2 linked regions of the Homo sapiens genome follow. The protein of the gene in region 1 purifies or fractionates together with the protein of each later gene. This does not show direct contact. Each region holds a gene or a part of one and is shown on either strand. Other genes may lie near its edges.

Evidence for each region.
Region 2: the proteins of TECPR2 (region 1) and VPS33A purify together in Homo sapiens (affinity purification with mass spectrometry; one large-scale study listed by BioGRID and IntAct). This does not show direct contact.

Annotation. Positions count from the first base shown.
Region 1 is NC_000014.9:102,428,772-102,432,590, forward strand, and holds part of TECPR2 (tectonin beta-propeller repeat-containing protein 2), read left to right. Parts: intron 1-3,024; coding exon 3,025-3,357; intron 3,358-3,819. UniProt on the Homo sapiens protein: Probably plays a role as positive regulator of autophagy.
Region 2 is NC_000012.12:122,238,828-122,242,646, reverse strand, and holds part of VPS33A (vacuolar protein sorting-associated protein 33A), read left to right. Parts: intron 1-138; coding exon 139-265; intron 266-2,701; coding exon 2,702-2,769; intron 2,770-3,819.

The sequences.
Region 1 (3,819 bases):
CCAAAAACTTACCATTATTTTGCTAAACTATTGCAACTTTATTTGAACTTGGAGGATTTGGAGGGTTTCCTCTGATTCTTTTTTTTTTTTTTTGAGATGGAGTTTCGCTCTTGTTGCCCAGGCTAGAGTGCAATGAGGCGATCTCAGCTCACCGCAACCTCTGCCTCCCAGGTTCAAGCTATTCTCCTGCCTCAGCCTCCTGAGTAGCTGGGATTACAGGCATGCGCCATTATGCCAGGCTAATTTTGTATTTTTAGTAGAGACAGGGTTTCTCCATGTTGGTCAGGCAGGTCTCAAACTCCCGACCTCAGGCGATCCGCCTGCCTCCGCCTCCCAAAGTGCTGGGATTAAAGGCGTGAGCCACTGTGCCCGGCCGCTCCTCTGATTGTTAAAATAGCATTTACAGTACATTTCTTGAAAGTCACCTACTTTAAGGCTTACATCAGATAGTCTCACATTTAGTGGAGTTGCTTTCATGGTTGTGGAAGATGGGGAGATTGAGAAAGGAGGAAGGAAAAATCAGAAACCACTTTACTGATCCCTGCTCTCCGTCTGAGACAGTATGTGGGATTAATGCTCCAAAAGACATAGATTTGCATAGAGTTTTAGAATATTTAAATCTGTCATCTGGGACATACCGTTTACCCTTAACTCAGTTCTTCCTTGTAGGATTTATTTTTCTCTGTGCTTTTGACATTTTTTGGTAATTCATACAAGCCCAAATTTTAATGAGCAAAGAATCCTAATATGTGTCCTCTTGCGGACATCCACATGCTTTATATATTTGGGTTCCTCGGGGAACTTGTTCCTCATGGTGGCAACAACAGCCATGTGGACCCCATCACCCTCCTCCTCACTACCATTACCTCTGATGTCAGAGAGGGCAAATTGGGGTGAATATTCCAAAACATAATTTGTATAAGAAGTGAATAAGCTCTGACTCTTGAGTTTATGAGCTGGGGGCCCCTCAGACAGTGTCATCAAAGGGTTAGAATGGCTTTCAGGAAGGGTGGTGACTTGGAGCCACCAGGCTAAGCTCTGGACCTCTGCTGCCCATAGAGCTTTCTGCAGTGATGAAGATGCTCCCATCTGCCCTGTCTGGTAGGCAGTCCCTGTCCATGTGTGGCTGCTGAGTACTTGCAATATAGCAAGTGCAGCTGAGAGATGAATTTTACATTTTGTTTAATTTTTATTTTATTTTATTTTATTTTTTGAGACAGAGTCTTGCTCTGTATCCCAGGCTAGAGTGCAGTGGTGCAGTCTCTGGTCACTGCAACCTCCACCTCCTGGGTTCAAACGATTCTCCTGCCTTAGCCTCCCGAATAGCTGGGATTACAGGTGTGCACCACCACACCAGGCTAATATTTTGTATTTTAGTAGAAAGGGGGTTTCACCATGCACCATGTTACCCAGGCTGGTCTCGAACTCCTGAGCTCAGGCAGTCCTCCCACCTTAGCCTCCCAAAGTGATGGGATTACAGGCATGAGCCACCGCGCCCAGCCTAAATTTTGTTCAATTTTGATCAATTTGAATTTCAATACTTACAAGTAGCTGGTGGCTGCCTATTGGACAGGGAGCTCTAGGCAAGATCTGCCATTAAGTTATGTAATCTTCAGCAAGTCGCTTCACAGCAGAGTCCTCCCCTCCAGTCTCCAGTGTACACTTCATTGCCTGCAGTCTGCCCCTAACACATGCCCTCAATAGAATGTGGGTGCTTCAAGGGCAGGAATTCCTGTGTCTTATGGACTGCCATGTCCCAGCAGCTAGCCCTGTGTCTGGCACACGGAGGATCCCCGATAAAGAGAGGATGGCGAATGGATCAAAGTGGGCTGTGGTCTTGTGTTGAGGGTACTGTAGCTGGAACTGCTCTGGCCTTGTGCCCTGTGGTGTCGTGTTGCAGAAAAGATGAGTCCACTGCAGTGGGAAGCTCACTGGCCCTTGGGCTTGGGGACAGGAGACAGGTACTCACATGCCTGTTCTCACTCTGCGGTCTACTGGCCTTGATGCTGTGTGGTAATGGACTTCTCTGTCTTGAGTTTGTTCTAATGGAAAATTACCTTTCCCTCTTCCAGGAAACTTAATTACAGGTACACATGTATTTTTCAAATGCCCTTTGAGTAATCTTAAAGTATATTCAAGGCAGAGTCTTAGTATGAAGTATAACTAAGCTGTTTTGTTATACACAGGCATCTCTCATTTGTAAATAATTTGTAAATTGAAGCGAGAAATGCTGTATTCTTAGTATTTTTTTACTTTTTTTTTTTTTTTTTTGAGACAGGTTTCACTCTGTCGTGCAGGCTGGAGTGCAGTGGCATGATCTCAGCTCACTGCAACCTCCACCTCCCAGGCTCAAATGATTCTCCCACCTCAGCCTCCCAAGTAGCTGGGACTATGGGCGTGCACCACCACACCCTGCTAAATTTTGAGACTCCGTCTCAAAAATAAATAAATAAATAAATATAAAAAGAAAGCTATGGCAAATTATTTTACTGATTTTAATATATGAGCTTCTTGAAGAACAAAAACTGTTTCTTAGAGTCTTTTGTATGATTCTTTTAGTTTTGGTGGATTTTTTTTTTTTTTTTTTTTGAGACGGAGTCTCACTGTGTTGCCCAGGCTGGAGTGCAGTGGCGCAATCTCGGCTCACTGCAAGCTTTGCCTCCCAGGTTCACACCATTCTCCTGCCTCAGCCTCCCAAGTAGCTGGGACCCCCGGCGCCCGCCACCATGCCCGGCTAATTTTTTGTATTTTTAGTAGAGACGGGGTTTCACTGTGTTAGCCAGGATGGTCTTGATCTCCTGACCTTGTGATCCGCCCGCCTTGGCCTCCCAAAGTGCTGGGATTACAGGCGTGAGTCACCGTGCCCATCCTAGTTTTGCTGGTTTCTATGAATTTAGAATCATTCAGTTCTTTAGCTGGCTGGTGCCTCTGTGACAACTGGTATTTAGGGCTAGCAAACGTGGATAAGTGCACATCAGCTCTCTCTTGGATCACCAGTGGTAAAACCAGACTCTTCTTTCTTAGTGAGAGATGGTCTGGAGATGTCTGGATGCTCAGAGCGTGTCCACGTGCAGCAAGCGGAGAAGCTGCCAGGGGCCACAGTTTCTGAGACGAGGCTCAGAGGCTCTTCCATGGCCAGCTCCGTGGCCAGCGAGCCAAGGAGCAGGAGCAGCTCGCTCAACTCCACCGACAGCGGCTCCGGGCTCCTGCCCCCTGGGCTCCAGGCCACCCCTGAGCTGGGCAAGGGCAGCCAGCCCCTGTCACAGAGATTCAACGCCATCAGCTCAGAGGACTTTGACCAGGAGCTTGTCGTGAAGCCTATCAAAGTGAAAAGGAAGAAGAAGAAGAAGAAGACAGGTACCCTCTGTAGCTGGCACACACCCATCTGGGGTTACAGTCTTTCCAGATTCTCTGGGAGTGCTGCTGCTCACTGAGTGAGCAATGCTCCATACATCCAAAAGCAGAGAACACATACATTTCTTCCCCAAAGGAGTTTTACTGCAAAATACTTCACATTAACGGAAAATACACACACACACACACACACACACTGTAAGGTCTAAATGATGACAGAACACCTGTGTGTACTCACCACCCTGCTTAAAGGGTCTCAGTTTTGTACTTTTCAATATTTATTTATGTATTTATATTATTTATTTATTTTTTGCGACAGAGTTTCGCTCGTCGCCCAGGCTGGAGTGCAATGGCACGATCTCGGCTCACTGCAACCTCACCTCCTGAGTTCAAGCAATTCTCCTGCCTCAGCCTCCCGAGTATGCATGCCCAGCGAATTTTGTATTTTTAGTAGATACAGGGTTT
Region 2 (3,819 bases), on another chromosome or scaffold:
TGGGAGGCGGAGGTTGCAGTGAGCCGAGATTGCGCCACTGCACTCCAGCCTGGGCAACAAAGCGAGAGTCCTTCTCAAAAAAATAAAATAAATAAACTATCTTCCCTGCTTGAGGCACTGCTCTCTTGTTTATTTCAGGAAAGACACAATGCTAAGACCGTGGGGGAGATCAAGCAGTTTGTTTCCCAGTTGCCCCACATGCAGGCAGCAAGGGGCTCGCTTGCAAACCATACCTCAATTGCAGAATTGATCAAAGATGTCACTAGTGAGTATCCTTTGTAATGATTGTTTCAGTCTGGGGCTACTTGCACATACAACGTTTGACACCTAGGTCATCAACACCACAATGCCTCTTCGGGAGAGTCAGCTCTGTCTTAATACCACGTGTTCTTCTCAGTGTTAATGAAGTATACATATGTTAATAGTTAAGGATATTCCAGGCGGGGCATGGTGGCTCATGCCTGTAATCCCAGCACTTCGGGAGGCCAAGACGGGCAGATCACTTGAGGTCAGGAGTTTGAGACCAGCCTGGCCAACATGATGAAACCCCATGTCTACTACAAATACAAAAATTAGCCAGGCACAGTGGTATGCATCTGTAGTCCCAGCTACCTGGGAGGCTGAGGCAGGAGAATTGCTTGAACCTGGAAGGCGGAGGTTGCAGTGAGCCGACATCACGCCACTGCACTCCAGCCTGGGTGACAGAGTGAGACTCCATCTCGAAAAACAAAACAAAAAGAATGTTCCATTTGTTGGCCAGGCATGATGGCTCACATCTGTAACCCCAGCACTTCGGGAGGCTGAGGCAGGCAGATCACTTGAGTCCAGGAATTGAAGACCAGCCTGGGCAACATGGCGAAACCCTGTCTCTACTAAAAATACAAAAATTAGCTGGGCATGGTGGCACATGCCTGTAGTTACAGCTACTCAGGAGGTTGAGGCATGAGAATCACATGAACCCTGGAGGCAAAGGTTACAGTGAGCTGAAATCACGCCACTGCACTCCAGCCTGGTTGAGCGAGACTCCATTAAAAAAAAAAAAGACTGGGCGAGGTGGCTCATGTCTGTAATCCCACCACTTTGGGAGGCCGAGGCAGGTGGATCGCCTGAGGTCAGGCATTCGAGACCAGCCTGGCCAACATAGTGGAACACCATCTGTACTAAAAATACAAAAATTAGCCAGGTGTGGTGGCGGGCACCTGTAATCCCAGCTACTCAGGAGACTGAGGCAGGAGAATTGCTTGAACCGGGAGGCAGAGGTTGCAGTGAGCCAAGATTGCACCACTGCACTCCGGCCTGGGCGACAGAGCAGGACTCCATCTCGAAATAACGAAAGAAAGAAAAAGAGAAAGAGAGGAAGGGTCCATTTTTTAACTCAAATTTTTTCATTATCATTTATATGAAAAATATTTGGAATGTAGATAAGAGAAAAAAATTATCCATAAGTTTGCCATCATAATCTGAGATGGTTAATTTTTTTAGTCTAGCTTTTTTTCTTTTTTTTTTTTTTTTGAGACGGAGTTTCACTCTTGTTGCCCAGGCTGCAGTGCAATGGCACAATCTTGGCTCACCGCAACCTCTGCCTCCCGGGTTCAAGTGATTCTCCTGCCTCAGCCTCCCAAGTAGCTGGGATTACAGGTACTTGCCACCACGCCTGGCTTATTTTCTATTTTTACTAGAGATGGTGTTTCACCATGTTGGTCAGGCTGGTCTCAAACTCCCAACCTCAGGTGATCCGCCTGCCTTGGCTCCCAAAGTGCTGGGATTACAGGCATGAGCCACCGCGGCCAGCAGCTTTTTTCCTTTTTTGAAGGATTACTTATTGGCGCATGTTCTTCCCTTGAATATTCTGTGCAGAATTGGTACAAAGAGTATATGTTGAGTATTTTGAAAGAGCTCAGAAGACATCTATTAAAGCAGACATGAGTTTGTTTGTTTGTTACAACACAGGGCTGTAAAAGCTGAGTAGGAGATTGTTTTATGAAGTATACTTCGAATCTTAAGTAAATCACAGTTATCGGAAAATCAGTCCTTTGTTTCCCTGTTCATAGGAGTGGAAACCAGTTGAAATTGGGTTGAACCTAATGATGAAAATGAAATGTTCTTGAGAAATTAGCTTTCATTCATACTGACGCTCATTCTGGGGTCTGTACTGAAATCCTAAGGATACAAAAGAGTGCACTTGTCGACTGTATCTAGTGTAACTTAGGAGTGCAGAGGCCTAGCGTTTTCCATGTTTCCTAAAAGATTTTCTTCAGGTGATGACTTGAACTTATTGCTTGCTTGCTTTTTTGCATGATGTCTGGTTTCTTTTCTTTTGAGACAGAGTCTCGCTCTGTTGCCCAGGCTGGAGAGCAATGGTGTGATCTTGGCTCACTGTAACCTCCGCCTCCCCGCCTCAAGTGATTCTTGTGCCTTAGCCTCCCGAGTAGCTGGGACTACGGGTGTGTGCCACCATACCCAGCTAATTTTTGTGTTTTTGGTAGAGATGGGGTTTGGCCATGTTGGTCAGGCTGGTCTTGAACTCCTGGCCTGAAGTGATCCACCCACCTCGGCCCCCTACAGTGCTGAGATTACAGGTGTGAGCCACCGTGCCCAGCCACATGTCTAGTTTCTGAATCGTGCTCTGTGTATAAAAGCATGCCACTCAAGTAAATTAACATTTAATTTCTAAGTTGCAAATTTGCTAATTTCATTTTAGCTTCTGAAGACTTTTTTGATAAATTAACCGTGGAACAGGAGTTTATGTCTGGAATAGACACTGATAAGGTATGTGGACAAAAAAACCTCTTTAACAAGTAATTGAAAGCTTATTAAACCTCAGATTATAGCCAGAAAACCAATTGCTTTGATTCCCATGCCTTGCCTTTTTTTTTTTTTTTTTTTTTTTTTTTTTTGAGACGGAGTCTCACTGTGTGTCACCCAGCTTGCTCTGTTGCCCAGGCTGGAGTGCAGTGGCGCCATCTCTGCTCACTGCAAGCTCCGCCTCCCGGGTTGACGCCATTCTGCCTCAGCCTCCCGAGTAGCTGGGACTACAGGCGCTCACCACCACACCTGGCTAATTTTTTGTATTTTTAATAGAGACGGGGTTTCACCATGTTAGCCAGGATGGTCTCGATCTCCGACCTTGTGATCCGCCCACCTTGGCCTCCCAAACTGTTGGGATTACAGGCGTGAGTCACTGCGCCCGGCCACTTAAATATTTTTAAGAGCAAATGCAAAATGTGCAAGTGTAGATTTTATCAAGTAACAGATATTTAACATTATTCTGTGCAAGACACTTTCTGCCATACATGGCAACATGAGACCTGGCCCCTAAAATCAAATCTTTTTAAGACTGTATTAGATAAGGTATTTGCTCTTTTGAAAGAGTTTCTTATATAACTCCTTTAAATAGCTCTATTAACAAATTTTAAATTATTCACTTTATGAAAATTCCTAACATAAAACAATTACTGATACTTTTTGCTAGATTAGTTGTTGATACTATTGAAATGGAGTAGACATCTGGTAGCCTCTCAGAAGCGTGTCCTTAGAGACAGACGTGTCCAGACAGGCATATGGAGTGACCAATTGTATTCTCAGCGGCCTTGGGCTCCAGTGACTTGGCCTGATCACTGGGGGGTGTGTGTGTGTGTGTGTGTGTGTGTATGTATGTATGTGTGTGTGGGGTGTGTGTGTGTGTGTGGTGGCCAGGGTGTGTGTGTGGCTGGGGCTAGCAGAGCTATTTCGGGGAAGGGTTAGGGACTGTGGAAAAATAACTCATTTTCCCACGTATCTCCTTTATTGGACTTTGAAAAATAATAATAAACATCAAGT